2 linked regions of the Homo sapiens genome follow. The protein of the gene in region 1 interacts with the protein of each later gene in a pairwise test. Each region holds a gene or a part of one and is shown in the gene's direction. Other genes may lie near its edges.

The links. The genes of interacting proteins can lie anywhere in the genome.
Region 2: the proteins of FBXL3 (region 1) and CRY1 interact in a protein complementation assay, tested with the Homo sapiens proteins (one study listed by BioGRID).

Annotation. Positions count from the first base shown.
Region 1 is NC_000013.11:77,020,660-77,024,159, reverse strand, and holds part of FBXL3 (F-box/LRR-repeat protein 3), read left to right. Parts: intron 1-2,298; 5' UTR 2,299-2,299; coding exon 2,300-2,647; intron 2,648-3,500. UniProt on the Homo sapiens protein: Substrate-recognition component of the SCF(FBXL3) E3 ubiquitin ligase complex involved in circadian rhythm function. Plays a key role in the maintenance of both the speed and the robustness of the circadian clock oscillation.
Region 2 is NC_000012.12:106,999,171-107,003,967, reverse strand, and holds part of CRY1 (cryptochrome-1), read left to right. Parts: intron 1-2,019; coding exon 2,020-2,204; intron 2,205-2,599; coding exon 2,600-2,688; intron 2,689-3,885; coding exon 3,886-4,026; intron 4,027-4,105; coding exon 4,106-4,417; intron 4,418-4,797.

The DNA of each region.
Region 1 (3,500 bases):
GTAGACTATACACTTTTCTCTAAACTTATTAAAAAAAAACTAATCTCAAGTCACACATAATTTCCAGTCTTCCATCAGACTACCTTCTTGCTGTCACCTCTGTCATTCTATTTTCTCTCTTGTTCTCTCCCTGATCAGTAGGGTATACGTAATATATTTTATTCACATAGTTGGGAATAGGAGCAGTGAAGAATAGGCAGTTTATTGCACATATGCTAAGACGTCTTTGACTGACTTTCATGGCATTAAGGTCAGAGGCCTCTGCCATTCTCTTTTTACTCTCCAGCCCTCAATCCTCTTTCACAAGTTTTGCGAGGTACTGGGTGGAGAAAGTCTGCAGAAACATTTGTTTTACAGTAATGCATATGCATATCCTTCATCTCACACAGGAATGAGAAATTCTTTTATGCTGATAGGCCAGAGGAGTGTTGGAGCAACAAGCCATCTTTCTGAAAGATTGTGACCCCAAGTTTAGGTCGAAACCACTACCCTGCCAGAACTGTTCTCTAGAAACAAAAGTATTACAGGCTCTGAACTAAGTAACTACCAGTGAGTGGTCTGCAGCCATTTAGTTTAGAGCCTGCTATACTTTTCCAAAAAGTCCGATTACACGGTAATGCATTGATAGTAAAAGAAAATGTGTAAAACATAAAAAGGGAAGAGATGTTTGCAAGAAAAAAAAATTACCTGTAATCTGCCGTCTACTGTTGGTTACTATAATAATTCAGTGAGTCTACTTCCAGGGTGTGTTTTCTCGTACACAAGCTCACTTGCCCTGTCTCTCTGACACACACACACACACACACACACACACTCTCTCTCTCTCCATTTTAAAGCAAAAATAGAGTCGGGTGTGGTGGTGCATGCAGATACTCTGGAGGCTGAGGTGGAAGGATTGCTTGATCTCAGGAGGTCGAGGCTGCAGTGAGCCATGATCGTGCCACTGCACTCCAGCCTGGGTGACAGAGCGAGACCCCATCTTGAATGAATGAGTGAACGGAATGAATGAATGAGTGAACGGAATGAATGAATGAATCATTCTCTGCCTTCTGGGTAGTAACCCTGGTTTTTAGCATGTTGTGTACTTTAATGTCGTTAATGCTGGACTGCTTTCCTACACAACAGTCATATCTCAACAGTTCAACAGTCGTATCTCCCCTTTGAAAAGCCTTAATAGTATTGCATTTCTCACAGAAACCCTGTTTTATTAAACTAATTTTGGAAATTTAAGCACAGGAATATCAAGTAATTTGCTCAAAGCCACATAGCCAGTGAGAGGTAGAGCCAGAATTCAAACCCAAGGAGCTTGGTTCCAGAGCCCATTCTCTTTAGCCATAATACTGTTTTGCCATGAAAAAACTATCTTTCAAAGAAACTAATGGAATGAAAGTGCTAAGAATACATAGAATAAACAAATAGGTATAATTCAGAAACACAACTTGGGGAAAACAGTGCAATATTAAGTGATGTGTTTGAAGAAGCAGCTACATTCCAGACCAAACAATTCATAGTAGGGGTGGTTTTGCTTATTTTAGGCGGAGTTAAGAAATGTCTGGCAGTAACACATAGCATAGCCCAGTGCCTGTCCGTGGCAGGGGGTGATTTCAGGAAGAAACTGTTCCACCTCAGATCATCAGGCATTAAGAGTCTCATAAGGAGCGCACAACCTAGATCCCTCATGTGGACATTTCACAATAAGATTCTCACTCCTATGAGAATCTAATGTAGCTGCTGATCTGACAGGAGGAGGAGTTCAGACTGTAAAGCTTGCTCACTTCCTGCTATGGGGCCCAGTTCTGGTCCTCAGGCCAGAACCACAGGACCCCTGTATAGACTATTAAATGTGGAACATCCTCTCTGGAGGTTCTTGGGACCCTGGTTGGCCTGGAATTCAAGAACAAATATCCTTAGATGACTTTTAAGAAACCTTTACAAAGTATCGCTGTAGGTTCCCTTTTATATTCATTTTAGTTAAGTTGACCACAACTTTTGAAATATAAATTCTTAGCATAGTTTCAAAATCATAATACTCTCTCCCATGTAGTATATACTGTATATTATACTGATAAATGTAGATGTTTAAAAACATGCCAAAAAAGTGTAAAATTTATAAAACCATTGTTGGCCTTCATTGGCATTTTTCATAATAGTTTGTTTTGGTATTCTTGAATTACTGATCCAGTTTTTCCTGCATGTTTGTGTATATAAACACACATCTCAGTGACAGAAGAATGAATTTTGAGTTTATTTCTATTCAAAAGTTGAGTAGGAAAAAAACTGATGCATTTTTCGGAATAGGATGAAACGAGGAGGAAGAGATAGTGACCGTAATTCATCAGAAGAAGGAACTGCAGAGAAATCCAAGAAACTGAGGACTACAAATGAGCATTCTCAGACTTGTGATTGGGGTAATCTCCTTCAGGACATTATTCTCCAAGTATTTAAATATTTGCCTCTTCTTGACCGGGCTCATGCTTCACAAGTTTGCCGCAACTGGAACCAGGTATTTCACATGCCTGACTTGTGGAGATGTTTTGAATTTGAACTGAATCAGCCAGCTACATCTTATTTGAAAGCTACCCATCCAGAGCTGATCAAACAGATTATTAAAAGACATTCAAACCATCTACAATATGTCAGCTTCAAGGTAATATTTTAAATCCTTCTTTTAAAAAATAAAGTATTTTTAGTGGCTTTGTTTCCTAAACCAGTACATCTTCTCATGCCTTTAAAATATTTGCTTTTTCAGGGAAAATGCTTAAAAATTTAGAATTATTGTATACCTTAGAAGCTGTCACAAAATATTATATTTGATGGAGCTAAATTACTCTATTAATTATTAATAATTTCTTAAAACAGCAAAAGCAGCCACTAAATAAGCATAAGTCATTGATAAAGCTGTGAATTACATTGAATTATTGTGAACGATTTTGAGGAAGAAGAAATATCTAATAAAATAAAAATTGGGAGATTATAATTGAGTAGAGCTTAATTGCTATTTCTATCTAACAGGAACTTAGTGTTACTTACTGATGGCTTTTTGAAATGGGATCTTCAGATGAAAAGGAAGCATAGAAACTTTATGTAGAAGATTTAGATGAATATATTTTAGAGAGAAATAGAAAAAGGTACATGGGAGAATGCCAAAGGGAACTGTTTATTTCTTTTTGTTGCTGGAAGGAAGGTATTGGAAATCATGCAGTGATGAGATAAATGAAGTGGGTGGCTTTTTGCGATATCCAGAATAATTTAAGAAATCATAGCTGGATGTGGGTACCTGTAGTCCCATAGTCCCAGCTTCTCAGGAGGCTGAGGCGGGAAGATTGCATGAGCCCAGGAGTTTGAGGTTGTGGTGAGCTATGATTGTGCAGCTGTACTACAGCCTTGGTGACAGAGCGAGACCCTGTCTCTATTTAAAAAAATAAAAAATCACAGTGGTTTGTGTGAGGCTTGTCATGTTTTGTTTGGGTGATGAATAATGAAATATGGACATGTTTACT
Region 2 (4,797 bases), on another chromosome or scaffold:
CAGGCATAGTGGCGGGTGCCTGTAATCCAGCTACTTGGGAGGCTGAGGGAGGAGAATCACTTGAACCCGGGAGGCAGACGTTGCAGTGAGCCAAGATAGCACCACTGCATTCCAGCCTGGGCAATAGAGCAAGACTCTGTCTCAAAAAAAAAAAAAAAAATCAAGTGTTTATTGGATTGAATGTGAATATTTACTATATGTAATCTATCATATTAAAATGTAACATATAGAAAATGTTTTGTCCTAAGATTCTCATTTTGCTACTGTTGTGTAATTAACAATGTCCTCAGTAGTATTATTGTAGCATCATTACATTCAGCAAAATTCATTGCAACCCTATGAATAAATTCAAAATACACCAAAACAAAATTTACTTAAACAGGATATCTTTTATGGTGATTGCTTTCTGTATTACTTTCTGTATGTATCTGTAGTTGATACATCACTACGTATTGTATAATGAAAAATACACTAAAATACACTAAGAAAACCTTGATTTGCCGTTTATCAGTTATATGACCTTGACTAGTTTACTTAACTCTCCTGGTAGGCCTGTTTTCACATCTATAAAATGATGGAGTTGGATTTCACCTGTCATTTTTTATTAAGGCCAAATGCTAAGCAAATGGCCATAGTGAAAAAGAGTAGTTATTCCAAAAGAGTGTCTAAACTTAATCTTTAACTACCATTGGCAAAGCTAGTTATTTTTTTAATTAATAATTGATTGAGTTAATTAATGATCAGAAGTAAAAAGATACTTAAATTTAAATAACTTGAAATTTGGGGGCTTATGTGTTCTAAGTATGTGACATAGATACATATGCTGACATCTCTCATGCCTTCATTAGCACAATAGAAAATAGGAAGTAATTGTCACCACAGTAATATAGAATCAAAATTTATAAAATTTGCTGAAGGAAATAGGGTAATTGTTTTAGTCTGTTTTCACGATGCTGATAAAGACATACCCGAGACTGGGCAATTTACAAAAGAAAGATTTAATGGACTTACAATTCCACACGGCTCAGAAGGCCTCACAATCATGGTGGAAGGCAAGGAGGAGCAAGTCATGTCTTACATGGATGACAGCAGGCAAGGAGGGATCTTGTGCAGGGTAACTCCCCCTTTTAAAAACCATCAGATCTTGTGAGACTTACTCACTATCATGAGAACAGCACGGGAAAGACCTGCCCCCATGATTCAGTTACCTCCCACAGGGTCCCTCCCATGATGTGGGAATTGTGGGAGTTACAACTCAAGATGAGATTTTGGTGGGGGCACAGCCAAACCATATCAGGAATGTAGGTCCAAGGATACAAAGTAGAAGTTATGTAAGATGAACAACACTAGAGGTCTAGTGTACAGAGTAAGGATTTTAGTTAATAAAATTGTATTTTATTTGGAATTTTAATCAAATAAGTAGATTTTAGCTGCTTTTGTCACACACATACAAAAAAGTAACTGAGATTATAAATATGTTAATCTGCTTCACTATAGTAACCATTTTACTATCTACATGTATCCCATAATGTGTTGTAAACTCAAATATATACAATAAAATTTATTTTTCCTAAATGAGACCTGCTGATTACTCTTTCATATAATTATCAACCTGGTTTAGTTTTTATTGATGATTGAGATTCTTTGAGCTGGGCCATAACATGTTTTTCATATGTCTGTGTGTATTAACTTTTTGTAATTGCCTTTAGACTAATTTCCCCTCTTACTTGTTTTTTCCTCTCATAAGTTTTTAATATTCTTTGTCTTAAAGGTTTAATATTTGTGTAGTATATTTGTGTAGTATATTTGATACCCAGAGGATGTCTAGAAGCTCAGGAGAATGATTTTTGGACTCATTAATCATTTTGGACACATTTCTTGGTCATTATAACAAGCTAACACCCTCAAAGACTTCAGTGATTAATTTTATTTTCTGCTTTTTAAGCCTTTTGGGAGCTTATTAGCCAAAATGTATTGTCTTTTTTAATACTAACTACATTTTACTAACTCTTGTTATAGGATCATAGAACTCAATGGTGGACAACCGCCTCTAACTTATAAAAGATTCCAGACTCTCATCAGCAAAATGGAACCACTAGAGATACCAGTAGAGACAATTACTTCAGAAGTGATAGAAAAGTGCACAACTCCTCTGTCTGATGACCATGATGAGAAATATGGAGTCCCTTCACTGGAAGAGCTAGGTGAGTGTAAACTGTAGTCAGTGTGAGGCTTGCAAGTTAATAAATCATAAATTACTCAGAAAATTCCCCTTTTAATTTTGCCATGTAAAGTATTTTGCATTAGGAGAGAAAGAAAGGGCAGGGGGAGAAGAAAAAGAACCCTTTAAGAAGTGATATGTTTGTTCATCATTTATGTGTTTTATAAATATGTGATCTATTGTTACCACCTTAAGATGTACATCCTGAAAAATTGAAACCATGTCATATCCTCTATAGGTGAGGGCTTATTTAGGCCTTCAGTTCATTTTTATGGTACTCTCTTAATTTTTCTGCAAAGTAATTTGTTCTCCCAGTTATTGGGGTTAAATAAAAATTAGTTTCGGAAGAATGATGTTTTTTTCTTTTCTTTCTTGTAGGTTTTGATACAGATGGCTTATCCTCTGCAGTGTGGCCAGGTGGAGAAACTGAAGCACTTACTCGTTTGGAAAGGCATTTGGAAAGAAAAGTATGATAATGTAGATTATATAGCTATGCTTGTATTTCCAAACTGCCATTTAAAAAATAATTTTTCTCTCTTTTAAAAATAACAAATAGATTGTTGAAAGGGGAGGATTAACAGAAATGGTTAAAATAGCACAAACCTAATTGTTTGAAAGTTAACTACCATCTCCTCATTTAAATGCTCTTTCTCCTTCTCTTCTAATTATTTCCCCTTTAGCTACTACCGCACTACCTCTTCTGTTCTTTCTACCTAAGCTAGTATCTAGTGGCCACAATTTCGAAACTAGAATAGAATTATATTTCACCTTTACCTTTGTGTTAAAGAGAGGTTGAAAGCCAGGCATGGTGGCTTACGCCTGTAATCCCAGCACTTTGGGAGGCTGACGCAGGTGGATCACTTGAGGTCAGGAGTTCAAGACCAGCCTGGCCAACATGGCAAAACCCCCATCTTTACTAAAAATACAAAAGTTAGCCAGGGTGGTGGTGTGTGCCTTTAATTCCAGCTACTTGGGATGCTGAGGCATGAGAATTGTTTGAACCCAGGAGGCAGAAGTCGCAGTAAGCCAAGATCGTACCACTGTACTCCAGCCTGGGTGATGGAGTGAGACTCCATCTCAAAATAAATAAATAAATTTTCCAGGCCTGGTGGCTCATACCTGTAATCCCAACACTTTGGGAGGCTGAGGTGGGCAGATCATTTGGGGTCAGGAGTTTGAGACCAGCCTGGCCAACATGGTGAAATCCCATCCCTACTAAAAATACAAAAATTAGCCGGGCGTGGTGGCGCATGCCTGTAGTCGCAGCTACTCAGGAGGCTGAGGCAAGAGAATCCTCCACCCGGGAGCTGGAGGTTGCAGTGAGCCGAGATTGAGCCACTGCACTCCAGCCTGGGTGACAGAGCGAGACCCTGTCTCAGGAAAAAAAAAAAAGAGAGAGAGATTGAAGGTGCTCTCAGCTTTCTGTTGGAAATTTGAAGGAAATTTATTTCACATGAGTATGTGCTGCACAAGGACGACTGAAACAAAAGAATGCTCACTTTTTTATCCTGTCTTATTTTTTATTAAAACATGTAATTTGTGGCTAGGATAAGATTTTATTCCCCAAGAACTATGTAACTTTAAAAAAAAAAATCTCCATTCTGAGTGTTCTTTTAAAATGAAAAAGACAATTAGTTAATATAATTTTCTCTGTGTGTTTTCAGGCTTGGGTGGCAAATTTTGAAAGACCTCGAATGAATGCGAATTCTCTGCTTGCAAGCCCTACTGGACTTAGTCCTTATCTCCGATTTGGTTGTTTGTCATGTCGACTGTTTTACTTCAAACTAACAGATCTCTACAAAAAGGTATTCTCTAAAATTAGAGCTTATTGTTTAATACTTTAAAAAAAAATTCTGATAATACTTCTTTGCTTTTTAACCATAGGTAAAGAAGAACAGTTCCCCTCCCCTTTCCCTTTATGGGCAACTGTTATGGCGTGAATTTTTCTATACAGCAGCAACAAATAATCCACGCTTTGATAAAATGGAAGGAAACCCTATCTGTGTTCAGATTCCTTGGGATAAAAATCCTGAGGCTTTAGCCAAATGGGCGGAAGGCCGGACAGGCTTTCCATGGATTGATGCCATCATGACACAGCTTCGTCAGGAGGGTTGGATTCATCATCTAGCCAGGCATGCAGTTGCTTGCTTCCTGACACGAGGGGACCTGTGGATTAGTTGGGAAGAAGGAATGAAGGTAAGTGTTCTAACTGATATAGCATGCCTTATTTTGAAGGAATCCTTACCTTAATAAAACAAATCCTAGAAGTTGTCTGTTTATAGATTCATTTATGGTGTAGTTTTTCAGTGGATAAAACATTTAATTCCCCAAATACGGGGACACTTTCAGAGAAAAATGGTATAATCAGACAAGCAAAAAGGTGAAAACTGGTTAAATTGATTAACCTAAAGTCATTTTAATGGTTAAACCAGCCTAGCCACTAAGAGAACTGTAAAATTTAACACTGAATTTGTTGATAGATATATTTATAGGTGATATTTCTATCACGAAAAGAATTCACTAAAGAGTTCCTAGAGATAGTGAATTCATATTATAAATTTTAAAATATAAATCAT